4 linked regions of the Homo sapiens genome follow. The protein of the gene in region 1 purifies or fractionates together with the protein of each later gene. This does not show direct contact. Each region holds a gene or a part of one and is shown in the gene's direction. Other genes may lie near its edges.

Region 1 (7,033 bases):
CTGCAGCGAAATGTGAAAGCCAAGGCTGGTCCCGCGGTCTCAATGGATGCCTTCTGTGGGGACAGTGGAGCACTCGGGCCTGCTGCGGCGCTGCTTCCTGGCTGCACAGTGGCTTAGAAGCAGCCGCTGGTAGGGGCTCTGGCACTCCTCCGGGTGAGGGGTGCTCAGGGTACGGCAGGCCTGAGAGCTGGGTCAGGGACAGAGAGCTCCTTTACTACGTTAAAAGGCTCCTGGCTTTCACGCCCAACAGCTGCTGCTGTGGCCCTGCGGTTATGCAGGCAGAAGACACCCCAGCGTTGTCTCAGGCTGTCTCCAACATGAGTACCCCGCCTTAACCACCTAGTGTCCGGATCAGGTGCAGTGACTCCTCTGCACAATCCATACACACCTCAGATGTGCCCCGTGCTCAGCAGAGCAGCCCTCACTCCTTTACAAGCTTAGGTTCAAGCTGCTGGCTGCTATTCCTGGCCTGTCTTTCCTGGCTTCTGCCTTCCATTTGTCCCAGTTCTATCCCTTTCCTCTTCTGGGCCTTGCTCCTCAGGAGGCTGCTCTGTGTTCTCTGAGGAGTGCCCCTCTCCCAAAGTGGAGGGATGCCACCCTCCCTCTGGTGTTCTCCAGGTAGATCAAGGAGGTTTCAGGGCAATGACAATGAGGAGAGCAGTTCCGTGGTCCCTTGAGAGGGCTGTAGACTGGGCAGGCATGGGAGTTGGGCATAGGTCAGCAGGCTTAGCCTCTTCTTTGGGGAAGCTGCTCTGAGAAGTCCTACTGCACTTTCATCCCTTGTCCCTGGCAGCTTGGTGGCTCAAGGTCGGGAACGCAAGTCTCAGGGCCCCAGATCTGGTCCCTTCTTCTGGGCAGGTCCTATTGAGACCCAAGAGGCAGATGAGCAAGCCCCAGGGCTTTGGAGGGCCTCTGCCAGGATGTCAGTACTCTTGAACCCCAGCCCTGACCCTCAGCCCTGAGCTACCCTCACCCCTTTTCTGCCTGGAGTCCAGCACAGCCTCCCTACAAACACAAGACACCAAGACTCTTTCTTCTCAGGCTGAACATTTCCATGGCCTGCTGTGTGTATGCATGTGGTGGGGGTGGCGGGGGCGGGGGGGGGGGATGTCCCATTCCAGTGTCCCTAGTCTTCCTATCATTTTCAATTATTTGGTTCAACTTCTGTGAGTCTTCCTTCCTAAGCTTCTATCAAATGGAACTGCCTCTAAACCTGAAATGTGCTGGCCCAAGAATGGAAGTCAGAGACTGGAACACTTTCTCCCCTGTGCTCCACCTGAGTTGTGAAGGAGCCCTGGTCCCTGGGCTGTAGCTGTGGGCTACCTGTGTACAGGCCTGTGTACAGGCTGGGCATGGTCCAAGGCTAGGTAGCCCTGCTCGACTCTCCCAGTCCTCCAGGACACACACCAGGAGCTTATCTCATGGCCTGGGTAGTCCTGGAAAGTAACTGACCACCTTCCAGCTGAGGAGGACCCTGCCCCATTTGTCCTTCACAGTGCAGACAGGGACTCACCAGACCCAGATCCTGAGAGGCCCATTTGTCCAGTCCCATCCTCCCCCAACCACAGCTGTGATCCTGACACCAAGTCCTGGGAAGACACTGCCTCTTGTGCCAGCTAGCTGGGCCTCCTCAGGGCCAGGCCTCCACTGGAGATGGGCCCAGAGCCAGGCAAGAGGCTGTGTGAGTCAGTGGGGCGTCTTTGTGGCGTCTCAGCTGCCATCCCAGTGGACTGTTGAGGAGGGATTTCATGGGGACACCGCTGGGGGTCCTTGCCAGAGGGAGAGGGTGTGGGCAATCAGAGTGACCTATTTTTCACCATGCTCTGTCGGTCGATCCACCATGGTGAGGCTCCGCCAAGCTTCTGGAGTAGGGGTTAGCATGTCAGAGTGGGGCTGCTGGAAACTGTTCCAGTCTGTAATCAAGTCCTTCCCTGCCTGTTAAACACAGGCAATGGGGGAGCAGTTAGAAACTCCTGAGGAAGGAGGGGGTGGTCAATGATGGGAATGATGGGGACAGGGGCTGTGCCCTGTTGTGACACTGGTCCCCAACTCTCCTTCTTTGAGCACAGCCTATCTCAGCTCTGCTTCTCTATTGCTGGAGCTTAAGTCCTTGCCCAGATACCACAATTTTAGGAGGAATGGAGAGAAGCAATCCCTCTGGAAGCTTCTTTGTCCCATCTTGCCCTTCTTACACCAGAGCTGGGGAATTTGATATTGACCTGAGACCTGGGGTTCAGAGAATAAAGCTCAGCCAGACCAGCCAAAGGTGGTCTGAGCACCCACGTCCACAGCCTGCCTGGCCCTGGGAACAGAGGCGTGGGCATAAGGGCCTGGGAACCAAGGCCTGCAGAGTTAGGAACAAGGAAGCACTTTCTGGCAGGAGCAGGAGATGTCAACCACCCCATCCTCACCCCGCCCTCTGCCCCCATTCTTGGCCTTGCCAGGGTGGTGGTCCTGCTGTGGCGCCAGTCCTCTCACGTCCCTGTGGAACGCACCACCACAGAGCACTTCCCCGAAATGAACCCCACTCTGGCCCCAGCAGATCCGCCCAGACCACAGAGCACATAGTTCCCCAGGGCCCCCTCCCCAGCTGGAGGCTCAGCAGGCAGGCCTCTAAATGCCAGGCTCCCATGGAGGGTGGCTGCCAGGAGGAAGGGAAGGGAAAGGAAGGGGGAGGCGGAGACTGAGGCGTCAATGTTCTTCCCCCTCCCTCCATTCCAACCCACAAAAGCCCCTGGTTCAGTTGCCATCCTCCCTTTTGTGTTCTCCATTGCAGCTGAGGAGAAGACCTCCAAAGCTGCCAGCTTCCCCCAGCTGCCCTTGGACTGCCGAGGGGGCCCCAGAGACGGGCCCTCTAACTTGCAAGGCTCCCCAGGCCCCTGCCTGGCCAGCCTGCATCTTCCTCTTTCCCCGGGACTCCCTGACTCCATGGAGTTGGCCAAGAACAAGAGCAAGAAGCGTCGTAACCGCACGACCTTCAGCACATTCCAGCTGGAGGAGCTGGAGAAGGTCTTCCAGAAAACCCACTATCCTGATGTGTATGCCCGGGAGCAGCTGGCCCTGCGCACAGACCTGACTGAGGCCCGGGTACAGGTGAGGGCACTGCAAGGATGGGGCTCTCTGGCTGCCCCTATCACACAGTGACCAGAAAGTGATCTGGAAGGGCTGGGAGAGGTGGGCACTGGTGCCTCCCAGAGCTACCTTTCCCAGGGGCCTGCACCAGCCTTCCCCTCCTGGGCTCACCCTCATGCCCAGCTCTGCTGCAGCCACAGGCTCTTCTGGTCCAAATTGAAGCTTATGCCTGGGTATAAGGGCGATGGCCTCTGGAAGCCATCACCTGTGTGGGAGTCCTAAAGTCTACCACTTACTGGAGGTGATTTGGGGTATGTTAATAGATCTCTCAGTCTCAGTTTCCCAGTTCAGGAAAAGGGAATGATGGGACTGGCTGCGTAGGGACTATCCTGAGGATCACAGGGATGGCCGCATTTTGGAAGCGGTGAAGTGCTGAACACACATCAGGGCTGCTCCTGAGGTGGCTGCCTAGAATGGGAGGGTCCCTGTCAGGAGGTCTCAGGGTTAGTGATTCTCAAAGTCATCAGGAGCCACCGACCTTGGGTCCCTGCCAGCGCTCAGACCCTGGCTGGGAAAGGCTGGCTGGGAAAGGCTGGCTGGGAGCCCTTCCCCATCCTAACAAAATCCCCCATGGAGATCAGGTGCCAGGGCTTCCCAGAGGGGCCGTGGCCAGTTTTACATGGGGGGAGCCCAGCCTGTGGGTAGGTAAATGCTGAGAAGGGAGGAAGGCAAGGGAAGCCCACGTCCAAGCATGCTGGAAGTGTCAAGCACATGAAGGTGGCAAGCAGGCTGGGGATGGGGAAGGAGTTTCAGTAAGAGTCTGGCCCAAGAGGAAGATGGCCATTCACTGGCTTGCACTGAACCGGCTCGATCAAAGCAGGCTTCCCGATACCAAGCAGGAGACACTGGGAGGGGTGGGTTGGAGTTCTGGGGAAAGGTGAGGAGGTGACCTCTTAGGCAGAGGAGTCTCTCTCCCACCATGGAGGAGACTTAGCAGGAACAAAGCTCATGCTATCCCACCCTGCATGGGGCCCTTCCAGAGACCCTTTGTGAAGGCACTAGGGCAGGAGATAGTCCTGGCAGGATATGGGGACTGACAGGCCAGTCTATAAAGAGGCCAGCTGTCATCTAACAGAGAAGGCCCTACGGCTGCATCCAACAGGATGAGAGAGGCTTGGGCTGTTTCCCCTTCTCTGCTGCGTTCTCCTGCCTCCCTGCTCCTCCGAGGAGCCAAAACAGACTTCCAAGACTGTCCCCCAAGGCCTCCAGGGGCTGAGGTCATCAGGGCAAGAGGCCCGGCATTCAAGGCAACCCCAGATGATATAAGCCATGGGAATCAGGACCATGGAGTCACCTCAGCAGGCCTCCGGGGTGTGGTCTAACCAGCTCTTCCCAAAGCAAGTGTTTGTGGGAGGTGGAGAGCACTTCCTCTGCTCCTCTCCTAGGCCTTTTCAACCTGAGAGGGTGCAGGAGTAGCCATGAGGCCCTCACCCCTAGTCTAGAAGCTTCCTGAAGGATGGAGACCCTGGAGTAGGAATGTTTTCTCTGGCAGGGGTGTGAAACCCACCCATACACCCTGCCCTATGGAGAGGAAGAATGAGACTACACACCAGATAATGCAGAGGGCAGGTCCAGAGCCCAGGGGAGGCCTACAGCGGGATCCCCAAGGGAGAATGGGTGGTGACAGAAAAGTGAGTTCCAATAGCCAGATTCACTGGCTGTAAGCTCCCTCATCCTCTGTCAGGGGAGGGAGAGCAGAGAAAGGAAATCCAGGCAGCTGGGCAGGTGGGGGTGGCCTTTTGCTGACCTTGCTGCAGGCCTGCTTTCTTATCTTGGCAATCTGGGAGCTAGGGGGATGGGGTATGCACAGCCCCTTCACTGTTGGTGCCTTACCTGCCTGCATGTGTAGGAATGACCATGGGGGCAGGAAGCCTGATCCCAGCTGGGGTAGACGGATTACTCCACACACACACACACACACACACACACACACACACACACACAGCTTTCTTCTGTTGTGACTCCCAGCTAGATATCCCTGGAAAGCAGGGGTTGTTTTGTTTGGTTGGTTTTATTTTGACATTGTTAAATTTAGCTTAGAGGCTGACACATAAATGTTGATTAAATGATAGAAATACAAAACATATATACCAATACAGTTAAATGTAACAGTCACAGCACATATACCAAACAACGAATTCATCACAGATATGTACACAGATGTGCACAACACACAGATGTGCCACCCCTATCTGCCAAGGGCTCACAAATAAATGGGAGAAACAGATTCCAAAACAGATCATGGTAATGGAATGGGGTGAGTACAAAGAGAGGTCCAGGGTATTTTGGAAGTCCTGTGGAGGATGCCCAGTGTGGATGTATGTGTTGAGGGGATGAGTAGCCCAGGAAGAGAAAACCTAAGCAAAAGATGGAAGGAGCAAGATAGCAGTGTTTCAGAAGAGCTGGGCGGGAGCTTGGGAGGCAACCAGAAGAATAAATGTGTTTGCCTGGCAGGATATGAGGCTGTGCAGAGAGGCAGGGGCCTTGTTAAGAAGCTATGCTCTGGACCAAGGTCTCCAGGGAGTCACTGAGGGTTTAAACAGGACCATGACCTGAACAGAAATGTCTAAGATTCCTCGGATGCTATGAGGTGGGTAGCCTGGAAAAGGAGATGAGGCAGGGAGACTAGAAACCCAACACATGTACACAGTATACCCAGGAAGTACCTAGGGCCCCTGAGGCCCACAGATGCCCCCACAACACCCTTACTAGACACAGCCAGGCTGGAGGACCACAGTGATTCAACCTGGGGAGTGACAGCTGGAGGCCCATGGGGCCAATTACCCACTGTGGGCTTGGGCCTCTCCCAGGCTTCCTCCCAGGCTTCCCTGGCCTGGAGAACAGTGTGGATTAACAGTTGAGATCCTCCATCCTGGAGCCTGCTCCCCATCCCACAAGAGGACACAACCATCAGCTCTCCCTAGCAGGCTCCTTTCCTCAGGGCTGCCCTATCACCCCCTCAAACCCCCACAACCTGCCCCCAGGTCTGGTTCCAGAACCGCAGAGCCAAGTGGCGGAAGCGCGAGCGTTATGGGAAGATCCAGGAGGGGCGGAACCCCTTCACGGCTGCCTATGACATCTCTGTGCTGCCCCGTACTGACAGCCACCCTCAGGTAAGACCCCAGCCCTACCTGAACCAGGACCTGGCAGGGTCACCAAAAAGAATATGAGGTCTGGCCTGAAGAAACCTGGAGAGCGTCAGCGTTCTGTATGACAGTGGGTACACCACTTCACTTCTTTCTCTGCAAACCGGGGCTCTTGCCTGTCTCATGAATGACGCATGCGGAACACAAAGGAATCACAGAAGAAAATTTCGTTTTGAGAACAGTGGCAGGGGCCTCCTGAGATGCCACTGCCAGTGTTGGGGGTGAGAGGGGGTAGATCTGAGCCAAGTGGAGGTTTCCTGGAAAGTTTCTGGGGCCCCAAGGACAAAGAGAAAGCCCCTGGGTAGGGAAGTCAGCTCCTGAGGCTACAGGCTCATGGGCCTTCTTTCCCTCTCTTTTCAGCTGCAGAACTCCCTGTGGGCCAGTCCAGGATCTGGGAGCCCTGGAGGCCCCTGCCTTGTGTCTCCAGAGGGCATCCCCTCCCCATGCATGTCTCCATATTCCCACCCCCATGGGAGTGTGGCTGGCTTCATGGGGGTGCCAGCCCCTTCTGCGGCTCACCCTGGCATCTACTCCATCCATGGCTTTCCCCCCACCCTGGGGGGCCACAGCTTTGAGCCTTCCTCAGATGGTGACTATAAGTCTCCAAGCCTCGTCTCGCTCAGGGTAAAGCCCAAGGAGCCACCCGGCCTTCTGAACTGGACCACGTGATCGGTTGCATGGACCTGCAGAATGAGCTGCCCACCTCTTTTTCCATTCCCAGTCGCTCCCAGCCCACCTCTGCCTCCAAGCCCCAG
Region 2 (4,188 bases), about 67 Mb from region 1:
GCATCCCAGTGTGATGCATGCCACAGTAGCATGGAGGAAGTTATAGTCAACCTACCTGGGGATCAAGAAGGCTTCCCAGAGGGAAATGGGGTGCAGCCAGAAAGGGGGCCACCCGTCACTTGTCACACAACGCACTTTAATGGGGAAGCTGGTGCTAAACCATTCATAGAGGACCTGCCTCCGGGTTAGGGTTTCATACATAGCTGAGCAGCTCCCTCGCTGCCATCTGTTGAAAGACAGCCCTCAACAGAAGGGCTTGTTAAAAGCAAAAATAATAACAACAACAACAACAACAAAAAGAAGGCTTCCCAGAGGAAGCAATGGCAGTTTTGCAGGATGAATACGATTACGGAGTACTCCGGGTGGTGGGATGGTGTTTGCACAGGAGTGGAGGCATTGTGCAGCCTGGTAGTCAGGGGAACTAAGAAAGGTGCCAAATCCTGGAGAGCTACATTCAAGGGAATTTTTATCCTTTAGCTCAACCATAGCTATGTGGCAGATTCTCTTTTACTAATTGTTAAATACCAAATTTGTGAGAGAGCTTCGTGATTTACAAGTGAGAGTGGCCTGGAGGTTATTCCTCATTCCCTCGCCCACCCACATTCCCTTTTGCATGTCCAAGAAGGGGAGAGGTTCAGCTAGTGCTGCAAGGATCCTATGTGGCCCAGAGCCGGCTCTGTCATACTGGAGCCTCCAGCAGGCCCCTGGCAGTGATGGCCATTGGTACGTGGCACAGATCAGAGGGCTTTCCTCTACCTCAGAATGTTTGGAATTCTGTCACAATCTGGGCACACCCAAAGGGACCAGTCAGACACACAACTGGGTGTGTCACAAGCCCCCGGTGGGAGAGCACAAGCACAGGTGCCAGGAGGCCAGGGAGGCCTCATCAAGCAGTGAAGGACGTGGTGAGGCCTTGACTTTTAAAGGATTCATTTTGCTGCTGTGTGTGTGGAGAGATTTCAAACCAAAAAGGGAAGCTGGTCAGCAATGACCTCTGTGGACAAGGGCAAAGCCCTAAACTCAGGAAGTGGCAGTGGGAGGAGGGAGAAGTGAGGCCCCGGGAAGGTGCAGGAGGTGGATGGACAGGACCTGGTGACTGGCTGGACAAGTGGGAATGGAGAAGGAGGCACCCACCACGACGTGACGGTGCCTACATAGAGCATGCCAAAGGTTTGCGTTGGGGAAAGACGTGGTCTGCCTGGCATTTGACAGTGAGCCCGGTCTGTTCCCTTTCGTGACCTTCTCCCTGCATGGTTTCTCCACCCACCCCACCCCAGAGCCCCACTGAAGTTCATGCTTTCCCTTTGCTAGCCAGCTCTTCTCTGCCCCACTTCCTGCCACTCAGCCCCATCTCCTGCAGTCCTGATGGAGGACTGACCCACTCTGCCCTGCGTCCGTCCCACCTCCTGATCCCTCATTCTCACTTCCCTGGGCCTTTGTATTTTGTAAAGTCCAGCTACAAACCAGGGTTGTGCCATTCTGCCCAGGATCTGCCCTTGGTTGGAGCCCTTCATTCCTGCTTGCCACACCCTGCTCACTTCTGCCAAGAACTGTCCTAGGAAGCCTGCAGACTTGTCCTGACCCCTAGGCTTGTGGCTTAGCCAAAGACACCCCCCTAGTTCATTGGGCATTCCGTAGACTCAAACACATTTTGGGAAGCACCTCCCCTGCCAAGAAGAGAGCTATGCCGTCTCCCGAGGTGCTCCCTTGCTAACATGTGTGACATTGGCCCCAGAGGTCCAGGCAGAGAGGAAGGATGATAGTCATCCAGTCCACGTGGACAACTGCATCCTGAATGCCGAGACCCTCGTGTGTGTCAAAGAGCCCCCAGCCTACACCTTCCGCGACTACAGGTGAGTGCGGGGCAGGTGCAGGGTGAGGAGGTCTGTGCCCTCCTCAGAGGCCCCACAGTGCCCTGCACTCTACTACCCCACCCTAGCACACACACACTGGTTGGGGCTAGCTGTTCCCAGAGTCCAATCCTTTATCCCCAAACCCGCTGGATAAGAAGATAGGCAAAGAGGGAATCATATCGTGGTGTGACAAGAACGGTAGTGTGAGTGGGCACAGGGGACTCTAAGGCGAGGGTGGAGAGTGGAAAGGTGGAGTTTGTACGGCATCAGTATAGGTTCTTAAAGGTTTCCCTCCCACACAAAGCCACCCTCCTGCTGCTGGTTGAGAGCACCTGGAGGTGAAGGCTCAGGGGAAAGGGAGGCAGGGAAGGGCCATGATGAGATGTCTCTGCCTTTCCCAGCGCCATCCTTTACCTAAATGGGGACTTCGATGGCGGAAACTTTTATTTCACTGAACTGGATGCCAAGACCGTGACGGTGAGTGCTCCCTTGTCCTTGTCCCTGGGAGATAAAAAGTCTGTTTTCTACAGCTGATGTTCCCAAAGTGCAGTGGACAAAAATAACCAACTGGGCTTCCCAGTGGGCGGTACCCTTCCCCCATCCAGAGGGGCTTTGAGACGTGTCCATCACTCCTCTAACCAGTCACCCTTTCTCTTTAGTTCTGGTCTTAGGGAAGCCATACTGAAGAGCTGCCCTCGGTCGTGAGCCCTAATGAGCCCATGTCTCTTCTGAGAGTGGATTACAGTCTTTGTCCTGTGCAACCCCCCTCCCTTTCTGTCCCCCTTAGGCAGAGGTGCAGCCTCAGTGTGGAAGAGCCGTGGGATTCTCTTCAGGCACTGAAAACCCACATGGAGTGAAGGCTGTCACCAGGGGGCAGCGCTGTGCCATCGCCCTGTGGTTCACCCTGGACCCTCGACACAGCGAGCGGGTGAGAGCAGCTCGAGCGGGTGAGAGCAGCTGGTGCTGTGGTGACCCGTTCCCAGAGCGCCCTTGGTTTGCCTTTCTCTTCCCCAAATCCCATTGCCAGTGGCTGAGACACGAAAGGAGCACTTGGGACACCAGCTCCAACGCCCTGTCATTATGGTCACATTGCCTTGTCCTCCCTGGGCCTGCTGTGAACGGGATCCAGGTGGGGAAAGAGGTCAAGACAGGGAGCGATGCTGAGTTCTTGGTTCCCTCCTTGGGCCCCACTTCAGCTGTCCTTTTCCAGAGAGTAGGACCTGCTGGGAAGGAGATGAGCCTGGGGCCATTAAGGAACCTTCCTTGTCCCCTGGGAAGTAGCAGCTGAGAGATAGCGAGTGTCTGGAGCGGAGGCCTCTCTGAATGGGCAGGGGTTTGTCCTTGCAGGACAGGGTGCAGGCAGATGACCTGGTGAAGATGCTCTTCAGCCCAGAAGAGATGGACCTCTCCCAGGAGCAGCCCCTGGATGCCCAGCAGGGCCCCCCCGAACCTGCACAAGAGTCTCTCTCAGGCAGTGAATCGAAGCCCAAGGATGAGCTATGACAGCGTCCAGGTCAGACGGATGGGTGACTAGACCCATGGAGAGGAACTCTTCTGCACTCTGAGCTGGCCAGCCCCTCGGGGCTGCAGAGCAGTGAGCCTACATCTGCCACTCAGCCGAGGGGACCCTGCTCACAGCCTTCTACATGGTGCTACTGCTCTTGGAGTGGACATGACCAGACACCGCACCCCCTGGATCTGGCTGAGGGCTCAGGACACAGGCCCAGCCACCCCCAGGGGCCTCCACAGGCCGCTGCATGACAGCGATACAGTACTTAAGTGTCTGTGTAGACAACCAAAGAATAAATGATTCATGGTTTTTTTTACTTGGTTTGTTCAGACAATGGAAATTTGCCCATTCTGTCCCAGAGGTCTCACTTGATAAAAATTGCTCTAGGCAGGACCCAGTGGCAGGTGTGGGACGAGAAGTCCTGGCTTGGCACCTGGCTCAACCACTTGCTGTGCAGCCACAGGCCAGACACTTAACCTTCAGCACCTCGGGGTTGTCATCTGTATAATGGGGATCATAGTCCTCCCTCTGCTCACCTTCTGGGGCAGCTGTATGGCCCAGATGCAATATCGGATGTGACAACACTTTTGTAAACGGTAAAGCTCTGGGTGAATGGTTGGGATTATTGTTAATCCTCTTCTGGCAGGGAGCGGCGGTCAGCAGTGCTCTGGCACGTCACCCCTATGTCAGCCACATGCTTCCTGCTCTGCCGTCTGGCCTCAGTGTCCTGTATCTCGGCCTCCCTGTGCAGGAAGACACACTCTAGGAAACACTGGAAATGGAGATTCAGCTCCTCTGGCTACATCCCTGGTACTAGGTCCAGAG
Region 3 (7,252 bases), on another chromosome or scaffold:
CACTATCCTAAGTTTCTGTTTATCATTTCCCTCCCCTGCCCTCCCCTCCCCTTCCCTCTTTCTCTCTTTCTTTCCTTCCTTCTTTCTTTTTTCTTTTTTTTGAGAGAGTCTTGCTGTGTCGCCCAGGCTGGAGTGCAGTGGCACAATCTCGCCCCACTGCAACCTCTGTCTTCTGGGTTCAAGCTGTTCTCCCACCTCAGCCTTCCCAGTAGCTGGGATTACAGGCATGTGCCACCACACCCAGCTAATTTTTTGTATTTTTAGTAGAGACAGGGTTTCACCATGTTGGCTAGGCTGGTCTCCAACTCCTGACCTCAAGTGATCCACCCATCTTGGCCTCCCAAAGTGCTGGGATTACAGGTGTGAGCCACCGCGCCCAGCCTATCATTCTCTTTTCAATATAGTTTTACCCTGTATAAGGTAGGACTATATTATTTTTACTCCTAAATAATACATTGTGTGTTTTTCCATATTTTAAAACTTTAGGGTCGGGCGTGGTGGCTCACACCTGTAATCCCAGCACTTTGGGAGGCCGAGGTGGATGGATCACAAGGTCAGGAGTTCAAGACCAGCCTAGCCAAGATGGTGAAACCCTGTCTATACTAAAAACTACAAAAATTAGCCAGGTGCAGGCCGGGTGCAGTGGCTCACGCATGTAATCCCAGCACTTTGGGAGGCCGAGATGGGTGGATCACTTGAGGTCAGGAGTTTGAGACCAGCCTGACCAACATGGTAAAACCCCATCTCTACTAAAAATACAAAATATTAGCCAGCTGTGGTGGCGGGCGCCCGTAATCCCAGCTACTCAGGAGGCTGAGGCAGGAGAATTGCTTGAAACTGGGAGGCAGAGGTTGCAGTGAGCCGAGATCGCACCACTGTACTCCAGCCTGGGCGACAGAGTGAGACTCAGTCTTAAAAAAAAAAAAAAAAAAATTAGCTGGGTGTGGTGGCAGGTGCCTGTAATCCCAGCTACTCGGGAAGCTGAGGCAGGAGAATCGCTTGAACCCGGGCGGTAGAGGTTGCAGTGAGCCAAGATGGCGCCACTGCACTCCAGCCTGGGCGACAGAGCGAGACTCTGTCTCAAAAAAAAAAAAACAAAAAACAAAAAACAAACAAACAAAAAAACTTTAGGCAAATGGAATCATTCTCAATGGTTCCCCCCCGCCCCCAGATTGAACTGTTATTTGTAGCTCTAATTCTTTCATTTTCCCTGCTATAATATATTCTTCTATATGCATTTACTCTCATTTTTTTTTAAATCTACTCTTCTGTTTATGGACAGGTTATTCCTGCTTTCTGCCATTAAGAACAATGTTGCGTTACCTTACTGTAGACACTTGTTAATTACAAAAGAAAACAAATGAAGTAGGGAAAACAGACATCACCTTAATAAAGTGATCAAAATTAACACAGACAAGGGGTGGGCATTGTGTTATTTAGATTTTACACCTGAGACGGATGGCACATTGCTTCTGTGGCATTCTAGCCAAAGAGCTTAATCTGAATTTAGTCATGAGCTTAATCTGAATTTAGTCATGAGCTTAATCTGAATTTAGTCATGAGGAAACATCAGGAAAACCTCAAATGAGGAACTTTTTATAAAGTTAACTGGCCTGTGTTCTTTAAAAAAAAAAAAAAAAAAAGGCCAGGCGCGGTGGCTCATGCCTGTAATCCCAGCACTTTAGGAGGCCGAGGCAGGTGGATCATGAGGTCAGGAGTTTGAGACCAGACTGACCAATACGGTGAAACCAGTCTCTACTAAAAATACAAACATTAGCCTGGCATGGTGGCACGGGCCTGTAATCTTAGCTACTCAGGAGGCTGAGGCAGGAGAATCGCTTGAACCCTGGAGGTGGAGATTGCAGTGAGCTGAGATCATGCCATTGCACTCCAGCCTCTGCAGCAGAGCGAGACTCCATCTCAAAACAAAACAAAAAACAAAAAAAAGACTTTATTTTTTAGAGTGGTTTTAGATTCATAGCGAAACTGAGCGGAAACTACAGAGTTCAAATATACTCCATGACCCTACAACATGCGCAAGCTCCCCCACTGTCAATGTCTTGCACTAGAATGGTACATTTGTTACAATCAATGAACCTACATCAACACATCGTTATCACCCAAAGTCCGGTTTACATTAGGGCTCACTCTTAGTGTTGTACATATTATGGATTTTAACAAATGTATAGCATATATCCACCATTATACTATCATATAGAATAGTTTCACTGCTCCAATAATCCTGTCCTCTACCCATTCATTCCTCCCTTTCCATAATTCTCAGCAACCACTGATCCTTTTACTGTCTCCATAGTTTTGCCTTTTCCAGAATGTCATTTGGCTGGAATCACACAGTATGTAGCCTTTTCAGTTTGGCTTCTTTCAACCAGTAATATGCATTTAAGACTTCTCCATGTCTTTTCATGGCTTGATAGCTCATTTCTTTTTGGCTTGGAATAAAATTCCATTGTGTGTATATACCACAGTTTATGTATCCACTTACCCACTGAAGGACATCTTGGTTGATTCCAAGTTATGGTAATTGTGAATAAAGTTGCTACAAACATCCATTCGCAGGTGTGTGCATAAGTTTTAACCCATTTGGGTAAATACCAAGAAGTGCAATTTCTGGATTGTATGAGTAGAGTATGCCTAGTTTTGTAAGAAACGGCCCAACTGTCTTCTAAACTGTATGTACCATTTTGCATTGCCACTATCAATGAATGAGAGTTCCTGTTGCTCCACATCCTTGTCAGCATGTGACGTTGTCAGTGTTTTGGATTTTGTAGTGGTATCTCATTGCTGTTTTGGCCTATATTTTTCAAAAATGACAACGGCATGACAAGAAAAGCCGAGGAACCAGTTTAAAGGATATGAAATAGACTAGATGTAACAGTGATCACGGATGGACTGCATCCTAAGAGAAAAAAGTGCCATGAAAGACATAATTGGAACAGCTGACATAACCGGAAATGGAACATGATTAAAGTCTTCTATCAGTATTAAATTTCCTAAATTTGATTGTCTGGTAGTTTCATTCTTAGGACATACATACTGAAAGACTAAGGGGTTGGGCACGGTGGCTCACGCCTGTAATCCCAGCACTTTGGGAGGCAGAGGCAGGTAGATCACCTAAGGTCAGGAGTTCAAGAACAGCCTGGCCAACATGGCAAAACCTCATCTCTAGTAAAAAATAGAAAAATTAGCCAGGTATGGTGGTGTGTGCCTATGATCCCAGCTACTCGGGAGGCTAAGGCAGGGAGAATTGCTTGAACCCGGGAGGCGGAGGTTGCAGTGAGCCGAGATCGCGCCACTGCACTCCAGCCTGGGTGACAGGGCGAGACTCCGTCTCAAAAAAAAAAAAAGGAAAAAAAAAAAGAAAAAAAAAAGACTAACGGACAGTGGGCCTGATACATGCAACCTATCTCAAATGAGTCAGAAAAAAATGTAAAGATAGAAATGTGGTATAACGTTAGCAACTTGTGAATCTTGATGAAGGGTATATAGGAACTTTTTGTACTGTTTTTGCAGCTTTCTTGTAAATTATTTCAAGATTTAAAAGTTTAAAGATTTTTTAAAAGTGCTGCCATTAACATTCCATCCATATTTTTTGATGCACACGCGCAAGCTTCTCCAGCATATTCCACCGAATGGTGTTGCAGATTCATAAGGTGTGCACATCTTCAACCTGACTAGCTATACAGTTTACAAAGTGCTGACATCCTTATTAATTTTATTTTTGCACTGTCTTTTTCTCTCACTAAAATTTAAGGTTGGGCAGTGCTATTAAAAGTGCGGCCCTTGGGCCCGCAGCATTAGCCTCATCAGGGTGCTGGTTAAACACACAAATCGTCAGACCTCCACCCCAGACTTTCTGAATCAGAAACTCTGGGGGCACAGCCCAGGAATCTTCGTTTTCACAAACCTCCAAACGAATATAAAGATCGTAGATTATATAGACCGTAGGGCCGATGTATATAATCTATTAGGGCCGCGTCGGCCTTGCAGGCGGGTCTCCAAGTGAATGAGCGGCAGAGTCCCATCATGCGCATCAGCCTGCGTGAACCAGTGCGCAGCGCGCCTTTCCCGGGCACCCTCTAGGTGCTGGCAGCTGGCGCCCAGATCCCCCGGCTGGGTGGGGAGGGGCGGCCGGACGGGGCGGGCCGGAGGCTGGCGTCCCCGCCCCGAAAGCACTGGGCCCGCCGCGTCGCACCGTCCTCTTTCCTTTCCTTCTCCCTCCCCTTTTCCCTTCCTTCGTCCCTTCCTTCCTTCCTTTCGCCGGGCGCGATGGAGCCGGGGCGCCGGGGGGCCGCGGCGCTGCTAGCGCTGCTGTGCGTGGCCTGCGCGCTGCGCGCCGGGCGCGCCCAATACGAACGCTACAGCTTCCGCAGCTTCCCACGGGACGAGCTGATGCCGCTCGAGTCGGCCTACCGGCACGCGCTGGACAAGTACAGCGGCGAGCACTGGGCCGAGAGCGTGGGCTACCTGGAGATCAGCCTGCGGCTGCACCGCTTGCTGCGCGACAGCGAGGCCTTCTGCCACCGCAACTGCAGCGCCGCGCCGCAGCCCGAGCCCGCCGCCGGCCTCGCCAGCTATCCCGAGCTGCGCCTCTTCGGGGGCCTGCTGCGCCGCGCGCACTGCCTCAAGCGCTGCAAGCAGGGCCTGCCAGCCTTCCGCCAGTCCCAGCCCAGCCGCGAGGTGCTGGCGGACTTCCAGCGCCGCGAGCCCTACAAGTTCCTGCAGTTCGCTTACTTCAAGGCAAGTCCGCCTCGCCCCGTCCCAGGCCCCGGCCCCGCCCCTGACCCAGCCTCCAGGCCCTAGCCCCGCCCCTGCGCCCGGGGCCGCGTTGCCCCTCCAGTTCTAGACCTGGCTCCCTCCCATCCAGCCCTGCCAAAGGTCTCCTCCAAGTCCTGTCTCCTTCTTCATCTCAACTAGAGATGAAAATGCCTTTCTTGAAGGGTAACTCTAAGGTAGAGAATACGTACACAGAACGCAGTACAGCGCCAGGCACCCAACAAAGTGCCTGATAAATGTTCTCTGTTATTTGAGGGCAGACGCCTCTTTTCTGTATATACCATTAAAGTCGCCTTTTTTCTCAAGTGAGCGGTGACTTGCGATAATAAAGCAGAAGACCTGAGGAGCCGACAAGTACCTTTTATTTTTATTTTTTGTTGAGACAGGGTCTCACAGTCGCCCAGGCTGGAGTGCAGAGGCGCTATCATGGCTCACTGCAGCCTTGACCTCCTCAGGCTCAGGTGATCCTCCACCTCAGCCTCCTGAGTAGCTGGGATTATAGGCGCGCGCCACCACACCTAGCTAATTTTTTGGTATTTTCTGTAGAGACAGAGTTTCGCCACGTTGCCCAGGCTGATCTCGAACTCCCGGACTCAAGTGATCCTCCCACCTCGCCTCCCAGAGTTCTGGGATTACAGTCGTGAGCCATTGCACCCAGCTGACTAGTTCCTTTTAAAGAGGATGAAATTGAGGCCAGGGAAGGGCAGGGACTCCTTGCAAGGACACATCCCTGCTTAAAGGGGAACTCGTGCACCGTGAGTCATCAGGATTGGCCCTCTCCGCTGTTTCTCTCTTTCATCTAGAATTTAACACAGTTCACTGCCTCCTTTTAATGGCTGCTTAAGTTCTCTCTGTGATTGCTGGCTAAAAATAGCCACAAATTGCAGTTCTCTATCCTATGGGTTCTCACTCCGAGGACCCACAAGTTTTAAGAATGGTTAGATTCCCTGTCACTAGATAAAGAGGCTCTAGCTTGGTGGGTCCTCACAGGGTTTGGCTAAAAGAGCCCTCTCAAAGCCCAGTTTCTACTTTCTCTGAGAAAGATTTTAAAAGGAATATATTGTGTTTTTTAAAATTACTACAAAAATAGATTCATGGCATATCCTAGACTCTTGAGGTAGAAGGTTTTTGTTTTTAAACTTTGTTTTCAGTTTCTGGACTGCAAGATCTGTTTTTTCAGATTTCCACCGAGACAGAGCCACGTGTATATTGTATTTATATGAGCAATAAAATAACACAAAACCCCAAAGAGGGGAAAAGCTGGGTTACTTCTATACTTCTATGCTTAGTTACAGTTTTATTTAAAGTATCAGTTTTGTGAATGTTTGTTCTGGCAATTAAAAAAAAACAGTTTTAAAACAGAAGCAGGGAATGAGATTAATAAAATTCCAGAATGTTGAAAATGAGGGCTGGTTCATACAAAGCATCATTTTTTAAGCTAAAAATGACTTATCTAATTCTTTTTTTGTATAGCTTTTGGCAAATATGTTCTGAACCAAATTTAGGTCACATAATCAAGAGGAAATCATTTTATTTTTAAACCTAGAGAATACTAGAACCTCTGATTTCTTTAATATACAGATGAATTTGAACAAGTGTTACAGGGAAGAGGGGAAGAACATTTTACTCAATGTGACCAAAAGGCATGGGTTTTCTCTTTCATCATGGTGGCCCCAAAAGGTTAGGATGGTCATAGCTTCTCTTCAAAACCCTTTACAGGTCTTGTAACAATCACTTAGTTGAAAGTCAGTAAAATACTATCTATCTATCTGTCTATCTATCTGTTTTTTTTGAGACACAGTTTCACTTTGTCACCCAGACTGGAATGCAGTGGCACGATCTCAGCTCGCTGCAACCTCTGCCTCCAGGGTGCAAGCAATTCTTGTATCTCAGCCTCCTGAGTAGCTGGGATTACGGGCATGTGCCACCACACCCAGCTAATTTTTGTATTTTTAGTAGAGATGGGGTTTCACCATGTTGGCCAGGCTGGTCTCGAACTTCTAACCTCAAGTGATCCACCTACCTTGGCCTCCCAAAATGCTGAGATTACAGTCTGGGATTTGAACCACCATGCCCGGCCACCATCTTAACATTTTGAGATCTCATATAGGGCAGGAAAAAGCTAAGAATTTTATTAATAAACGTGAATGTTACTTAATTGTTTCAATGGAAGATATAACTGAAAAAGTAATTTTTGGTGGAGATATTGTATGGTGTATTTTTTCTCAATGATGTTTATGGCTTGGCATGATGGCTCATGCCTATAATCCCAGCACTTTGGGATGCCAAGGTGGGAGGATCTCTTGAGTCCAAGAGTTCAAGACCAGCCTGGGCAATATAATGAGATCTCATCTGTACAAAAACATTAAAAAATTAGCCGGGTGTGGTGGCGTGCCTTTCTAGTTTCAGCTACTCAGGAGGCTGAGGCTGGAGGATCACTTGAGCCCAGAAAGTCAAG
Region 4 (7,033 bases), on another chromosome or scaffold:
TCAAAAATGGGAGTGACTTGATTTATTTTGAATGCTGAAGGGGGAAAGTTGAAGCTGGAAGAGAGAAGGGGACAGCTAAAAGGACTCAGGGGAGTTGTATGAGGAATGGTCCAGAGCACAGGCGGAGGGATTAGGTTTGGATGAGAGGAGAAGGGGAAGGCATTTCATTCTTGGAGTCCCCAGATTAGGTTAGAGGCCAGGTGGGGATGGGAAGCTGAGGAATTCGTATTTTATAACATTCTTTAATTCTGGAGTGAGACTGGGGCCCATGTCACCTGTAGTAAGGTGGTAGAATAGGAGCTTGAGAAGCATAAGAAATATTTAACTCAATTCTTGAGTGTTTCTTGAAGGTTAGGCATCGTGCTAAAACTTGGGATATGAAGATAAATAAGGCATGATCTTCTGCAAACAACTATACTTTGTGGTGAAGAACAGAGACAAATTAGCTCAGAAAAGGTGGCACTGGATTTGGCCTTAGGTTGGAGGGCTGGAGGAGGTCAGCTAGGTGGCATTTGAGCAGATTCGGAGGTTGAGTATAAGACTGCCAGGGAAAGTTGAAAAGGGAGAAGGGTGAGGATTTGCAGTGGCATGGATGTCTGGACAAGCAAGGCTAATAAGAAAAAAAAAAACAACCCTTTTTCTGGAGATATAATATTCATATAGAAAAGTTCATAAACCACAAGTTTACAGCTCAATGAATTTTCACAAAGCAAATGCTCCCATGTAACCAGCACCCAAATCAAGAAACAGAACATCACCAGCAGGCAGGGCCCATATGTGAGGCAGAAAGTGTTAGAATTTGGAGAGGAGGCTGGAGGAGTAGGCAGGGTCTTGCTGTGTTGGGTGTGGGAGCTGGGAGGGGAGGAAGGGTCTGGCGTGCAGAGATGGACGTTACATGACTTCTGCCTTTACGGTCAAGGTGTAATTGTTTTTCTACCGGTTTTGTAAAATGACTGTTACTTTGTAAAATTTGGGTAAAGACACCATATTTCCCTTGCTTATTTATTTATTTATTTATTTATTTATTTTTTGAGATGGAGTCTCACTTTGTCACCTAGGCTGGAGTGCAGTGGCGCGATCTCGGCTTACTGCAAGCTCTGCCTCCGAGGTTCACGCCATTTTCCTGCCTCAGCCTCCCAAATAGCTGGGACTACGGGCACCCTCCACCATGCCCGGCTAATTTTTTTGTATTGTTTTTAGTAGAGATGGGGTTTCACCATGTTAGGCAGGATGGTCTCAATCTCCTGACTTCGTGATCCACCCGTCTCGGCCTCCCAAAGTGCTGGGATTACAGGCATGAGCCACCACACCTGGCTCCCCTTGCTTATTTAGAGGAGAGAACTTTCTTACTAAATAATTATTTCACTTTTACATTATTTAAGATTTTGGAGGGGTATTTTTAAAAGGCTTATTTGAAAATTAATTTTGTTTCTCTATTTTCTCTTTTTACTCAGGGTTATTATGTGTACCGTGACATGCTAGGCGAAAAAGGAGATTTCATTACTTCACCTGAAATAAGTCAAATCTTTGGGGAGGTAATATACTATGTAAAGTATGAATGAAGCTAATATAAACATTTGAGAGCAGATCAAATTGTATTATTCTGTAGTAGTGTTCTACAGCTTTTTTTGTGATTCATCAAAAGTTTTAACTTTATAGTAGTTTATGTACTGAGGGAATAGAGAGGCAGTAGAGGGGAGTAAAATGGTAGAGAGAATATTTGAAAAGTTTATACTCCACTGTAGGAAGGGAAATGGAGAGATAAGAGGGACAAAGAGAAAGAGAAGGAAAGGAGGGGGTCATAAAGAGGACAGAAAAAGGAGAATCAGATGAAGGAAGAGAATGGAAGAAGGGGCCAGGCGTAGTGGCTCACACCTGTAATCCCAGCACTTTGGGAGGCCGAGGCAGGCGGATCACAAGGTCAGGAGATCAAGACCGTCCTGGCTAACACGGTGAAACGCAGTCTCTACTAAAAAAAAAATACAAAAAATTAGCCGAGCGTGGTGGCGGTCGCCTGTAGTCCCAGCTACTTGGGAGGCTGAGGCAGGAGAATGGCGTGAACCCGGGAGGCGGAGCTTGCAGTGAGCCAAGATGGCGCCACTGCACTCCAGCCTCGGCGACTGAGCAAAACTCCGTCTCAAAAAAAAAAAAAGAGAATGGAAGAAGGAAGAGAGACAAAAGGAAAGGCGAGGAAAGAGGTAGAGTGCCCAGGAGAGTGCCCGGGAAGGAAGAGAGAAAAGATAAAGAGCATTGAAGAATTAGTGGAATTAAGAGAAGCTCTAAAGCTCCCAGTCATGATTTTAGCCGTACTTACAGTAAAAGTCTTCTTTTATTTATCTATTTTTTGAGCCAGGGTTTTGCTCTTATTGCCCAGGCTGGAGTGTAGTGGCGCAATCTCGGCTCACTGTAACCTCTGCTTCCCGGGTTCAAGCGATTCTCCTGCCTCAGCCTCCCGAGTAGCTGGGATTACAGGCATGTGCCACCACTCCTGGCTAATTTTGTATTTTTAGTAGAGACAGAGTTTCTCCATGTTGGTCAGGCTGGTCTTGAACTCCCGACCTCAGGTGGTCCACCCGCCTCAGCCTCCCAAAGTGCTGGGATTATAGGCGTGAGCCACCACGCCCAGCCAAGTCTTCCTTTAATAAACAGAATTCTAATTCATTTCCACTAAGTACCTTCTATGAATTTAGAAATAGGAAATAGTGTATACGAGGAAGTAGAATGTGCGTATCGAAAAACATTAGTTATTATAAGAATCATGTAATTGTTTAAATCATATGAATATGAAGAAATGGCATAATCACATTTCATATGTTTATTTGCTTTCAAATACTAATACCTTTCTGCTAGTGATATCCTCTTATCTATGTCATGGGACCTTTTATAGCAGAGGCTGCCTTATTTTTTCCTATTAATCTTCCTAAATGGTGTATGTTATGATGTAGTCCCAGGAAGTTCCTATGTGAACATGTACGTATGTATTGAACAACATACATATGGCTGTACACATTTTGCTTTTTGGCATATAGTGCATATTTATGTGAAATTTTATATTGTGGTATACTTTTATACTTTATAATACTTTAATATGTGTTTTTTTTTTCCCTTTTCACAGCTACTAGGTATATGGTTCATTAGTGAATGGATGGCCACTGGAAAAAGCACAGCTTTCCAGCTGGTGGAACTGGGCCCAGGTAGGGGAACCCTCGTGGGAGATATTTTGAGGGTAGGTAATAAAAGAATGTCTTCTAGTCTCATATAAGTGAATTTTAGTACTTCTGAGTGTGCAAACCATGTTGATTTCATTGGTTTTCAGTTCCTTAATTTCATATTTCTCAGCTAAAATATAATGTCAGAATAATGTAATCAGTCATTACTTACTGTTGTCTGTAAACTTAAAAATTGGAGGGGAGGGGGAGAATATGAAAGCTAAAAATAGGAAACATTTAGAAGACATTATGGGAGAGTGTATTTGTTTCCTCAGGAAGGAAAGTTGTTAATTATATTAAAAGTTTAGGCCAGGCATGGTGGCTCAATCCTAGCACTTTGAGAGGCCAAGGTGGGCAGATCACAAGGTCAGGAGTTCGAGACCAGCCTGACCAACATAGTGAAACCCCGTCTCTAGTAAAAATACAAAAATTAGCTGGGCATGGTGGTGTGCATCTGTAATCCAGCTACTCAGGAGGCTGAGGCAGGGAATCGCTTGAACCCAGGAGGCAGAGGTTGCAGTGATTGCTGCAGTGATTGATTGCAGAGCTGAGATTGCGCCATTGCACTCCAGCCTGGTGACAGAGCGAGACTCCGTCTCAAAAAAAAAAAAAAGTTTAGGCTGGGCAAAGTGGCTCATGCCTGTAATCGTAGCACTTTGGGGGGCCAAGGTGGGAGGATTGCTTGAGGCCAAGAGTTCAAGACCAACCTGGCCAACAAAGCAAGACCTCGTCTCTTTTTATATTAAAAAAAAAAAAAGCAGAAGGCATAAAGCAAAAGATTAATATTTCATTTCTTACATTAAAATTAAAAACTTCTTGCTCTACAAATAAACTAGCAGCTTTTTGTTCTTCAGAGACCCCATTAAGAGAGTGATTAGACAAGCCACAGAGTGGGAGAAGTTATTTGTAACACGTAACCAACAGAGAACTAGTAGTTAGAATTATTTAAATAACTCCTTTAGGTCAGTAAGAAGACAGATAACTTGAGAAAAATCAGGCCAAAGATGTGAACAAGTCCATTCATAAAAGAGGAAAATACAAACGGCTAAAAAAGCAAAAAAAAAAAAAAAAAGATTAGTCACATTGGTAGTCAGGAAGATGAAAATTAAAATCACAATGAGATACTACTGTAACCCTTGCCAGATTAGAAAAAAAAGCTAAAAGTCTGTCAACACCAAGTATTGGTGAAGATGTGGATTTGTGGATCAATGGCAACTCTCATATACTGCTTGTAAAACTATAATTTAGTACATCCTTTTTTCTTTCTCTTTTTTTTTTTTTTTTTTGAGACACAGTCTCACTTTGTCACTCAGGCTGGAGTGCAGTGGTACGATCTTGGCTCACTGCAACCTCTGCCTCCCAGGTTCAGGCGATTCTTGTCCCTCAGCCTCTTGAGTAGCAGGGATAATAGGCGTGGATCACTACACCCGGCTAATTTTTTTATTTTTAGTAGAGAAGGGGTTTTACCATGCTGGCCAGGCTGATCTTGAACTCTTGGCTTGAAGTGGTCCGCCTGCCTCGGCCTCCCAGAGTGCTGGGATTACAGGCATGAGCCCCCGTACCCAGCCTTGTACAACCTTTTTGAAAAGCTATTGGCCATTATCTATTAACATCAAAGTTTCTTATATTGTATGACCCAGCAATTTTACTGCTAGTGATATACCCTAGAGAAACTAGTGTATATGTGTACCAGGAGACACATACAAGAAGATAGCAGCATTGTATAAAATAGCGGAAAATAACAGCACAAATGCCCATCGGGGGGTAAATGAATCAGTTAATTGTGGTATAGTCATACAGTGGAATACGAAGTACTGCAAGAATGCGTGAAATCACAGTGGAATATAACAGTGTTCAACATGAAACAAGATGTGTGAAAGTAGCAGTTTGCAAGAGTTCGTATCATATGATTGTATTTATATAAAATCCAAAAAATAGTCAACATTAAACAATATGTATTTGGTGATAAAAATATATTTAGTAACATTTATAAAGAAAAGTCAGGGTGTTATTAACTCAAGATTCAGAATGGTGGTGACTTCCAAGGGTAGAGGGAGTCCACAGGGGCTTTGGAGATAAGGTCATGTCCCATTTATGGTAGATATTCTCTCTTGTATCATTGTTTCTATCAGTCTACGTACTATTTTATGAAAACATTAAAAAGGAGGACAGTTGTTTATAGTACCTGATAAGTAATAGTATTTATTAAACTTTTGTAGTTTTTAGTATTTTGGAACTCATTAGTGTTTTTGAGTTTATTTTATATGTACTTGACAATTCAATGTAAAAAACAAACATGGCTGGGCGCAGTGGCCCATGCCTGTAATCGCAGCACTTTGGGAGTTCGAGGCTCCCAAAGTTCAAGATCAGCTTGGGCAATACGGTGAAACTCCATCTCTACAAAAAATACAAAAATTACCCAGTCGTGGTAGCATGCGTCTGTGGTCGAAGCTAGTTGAGGGGCTGAGATGGGAGGATTGCTTGAGCCCAGGAGGTTGAGGCTGCAGTGAGCTGTGATTATGCCTCTGAGTAACAAAGTGAGACCCTGTCTCAAAAAAAAAACCAAAAAACACCAACACATACTCAATATAAATTTAAATTTCTTGATGCTTTATGGTTTTTGCTTTAAATTAGAAATTAAAGGATTTAAAAAATATATAAAATATATAAACATATGACAAATAAGAATCTTGATTATTTGGGTGAAGAAAGAAAACAAAATCACGAATTTAAATTTCCAGGGCTCTATTTTATGTTTTTCAGCAAGGTCATTTGAATATAAAATATTTAATAAGGACCTCAAATCATATTCTCTTGTTCAAGTACTTTAAAAGTTGATTCCAGAGCCCTTAAAATGTATGAAGGATGCTTTTCCAGACTGAGTCATAAGAAGTCCTAAAAGCCAAAGAATTTAAAGGGTTGTAAAGCAAATAGCCAGAGAAGTGTCAGACCTGTTTTATTTTTGATGTTACCTTCTGAAGGAATTTCTCCTGGGAAGTTTTTCCATTTGTATTTCGATCTCAAAACTAAATTTGGAAAAATCATCTTGTTCATATTATCAGTCTGGATGTGCATATTCATATCTCAAAAGTATTAATTGGAGGCAGATCACCAGTAGAAATTAAATTCAAATGAAAAATAATGTTGATACACTTTATGCTTTTGCTATTGATTTTTTAGCCTTAAAAGATTGGTAAAATATTAGTATTTTCCTTTTTCCCTTGCATGTTTACAACAGTGAAAAAATGTGTAGCTAAATATAGATTGAAAATGTGGCAGACCCCCGAGTTAAGCAGTCAGGTTTTCAGTACCATTCAGATTTGGTTCTTTGAGGTTAGAGTTCTCATCATCTCAAAGATGAGATTACTTCCTAGACCTAGAGATGTTATCAAATCAAGGCTGTGTACATTTTATTTCCTTGGTCTTTTTTTAGACTCCATAATCTGAATCATTGTTTTTATCAGATGCCAAATCTTTTATTTTCATTTGTTAATCATAATTTATCATTAGGAAACCAAATTGTGCATTGTTCATTTCTTATTTAGATTATGCTTAATAACTAGTAGGTTAGGATTCTTATAGACTGCTGGAGAGTGGCTTGGGTAAGGAACACATCTCTCTGAAATATTACCTCTATTGTGACATGACTAAATCATTGATGTAAATGATTAGGAAACTTAAAACCTACTTAACACATTGTATTTTTTTTTCTTCTTTTGGTATTTAGGTGTTCACTCAACTTGGATCTGTGCTGAAAAATTGTGACATTTCAGTACATCTGGTAGAGGTAAGCCAAAAATTAAGTGAGATTCAAGCATTGACAC

What was found.
Region 2: the proteins of ALX3 (region 1) and P3H1 purify together in Homo sapiens (affinity purification with mass spectrometry; 2 studies listed by BioGRID and IntAct, with this or other methods). This does not show direct contact.
Region 3: the proteins of ALX3 (region 1) and CRTAP purify together in Homo sapiens (affinity purification with mass spectrometry; 2 studies listed by BioGRID and IntAct, with this or other methods). This does not show direct contact.
Region 4: the proteins of ALX3 (region 1) and NDUFAF7 purify together in Homo sapiens (affinity purification with mass spectrometry; 2 studies listed by BioGRID and IntAct, with this or other methods). This does not show direct contact.

Annotation. Positions count from the first base shown.
Region 1 is NC_000001.11:110,060,647-110,067,679, reverse strand, and holds part of ALX3 (homeobox protein aristaless-like 3), read left to right. Parts: intron 1-2,776; coding exon 2,777-3,093; intron 3,094-6,116; coding exon 6,117-6,245; intron 6,246-6,638; coding exon 6,639-6,947; 3' UTR 6,948-7,033. UniProt on the Homo sapiens protein: Transcriptional regulator with a possible role in patterning of mesoderm during development.
Region 2 is NC_000001.11:42,745,865-42,750,052, reverse strand, and holds the end of P3H1 (prolyl 3-hydroxylase 1 isoform 1 precursor), read left to right. Parts: intron 1-1,735; coding exon 1,736-1,853; intron 1,854-2,254; coding exon 2,255-2,330; intron 2,331-2,640; coding exon 2,641-2,781; coding exon of another isoform or gene 2,782-3,141; exon of another isoform or gene 3,142-3,200; coding exon 3,201-3,356; 3' UTR 3,357-3,679; downstream 3,680-4,188. UniProt on the Homo sapiens protein: Basement membrane-associated chondroitin sulfate proteoglycan (CSPG). Has prolyl 3-hydroxylase activity catalyzing the post-translational formation of 3-hydroxyproline in -Xaa-Pro-Gly- sequences in collagens, especially types IV and V.
Region 3 is NC_000003.12:33,109,791-33,117,042, forward strand, and holds the start of CRTAP (cartilage-associated protein isoform 1 precursor), read left to right. Parts: upstream 1-4,223; 5' UTR 4,224-4,287; coding exon 4,288-4,758; intron 4,759-7,252. UniProt on the Homo sapiens protein: Necessary for efficient 3-hydroxylation of fibrillar collagen prolyl residues.
Region 4 is NC_000002.12:37,234,642-37,241,674, forward strand, and holds part of NDUFAF7 (protein arginine methyltransferase NDUFAF7, mitochondrial), read left to right. Parts: intron 1-1,454; coding exon 1,455-1,535; intron 1,536-3,115; coding exon 3,116-3,226; intron 3,227-6,936; coding exon 6,937-7,033. UniProt on the Homo sapiens protein: Arginine methyltransferase involved in the assembly or stability of mitochondrial NADH:ubiquinone oxidoreductase complex (complex I).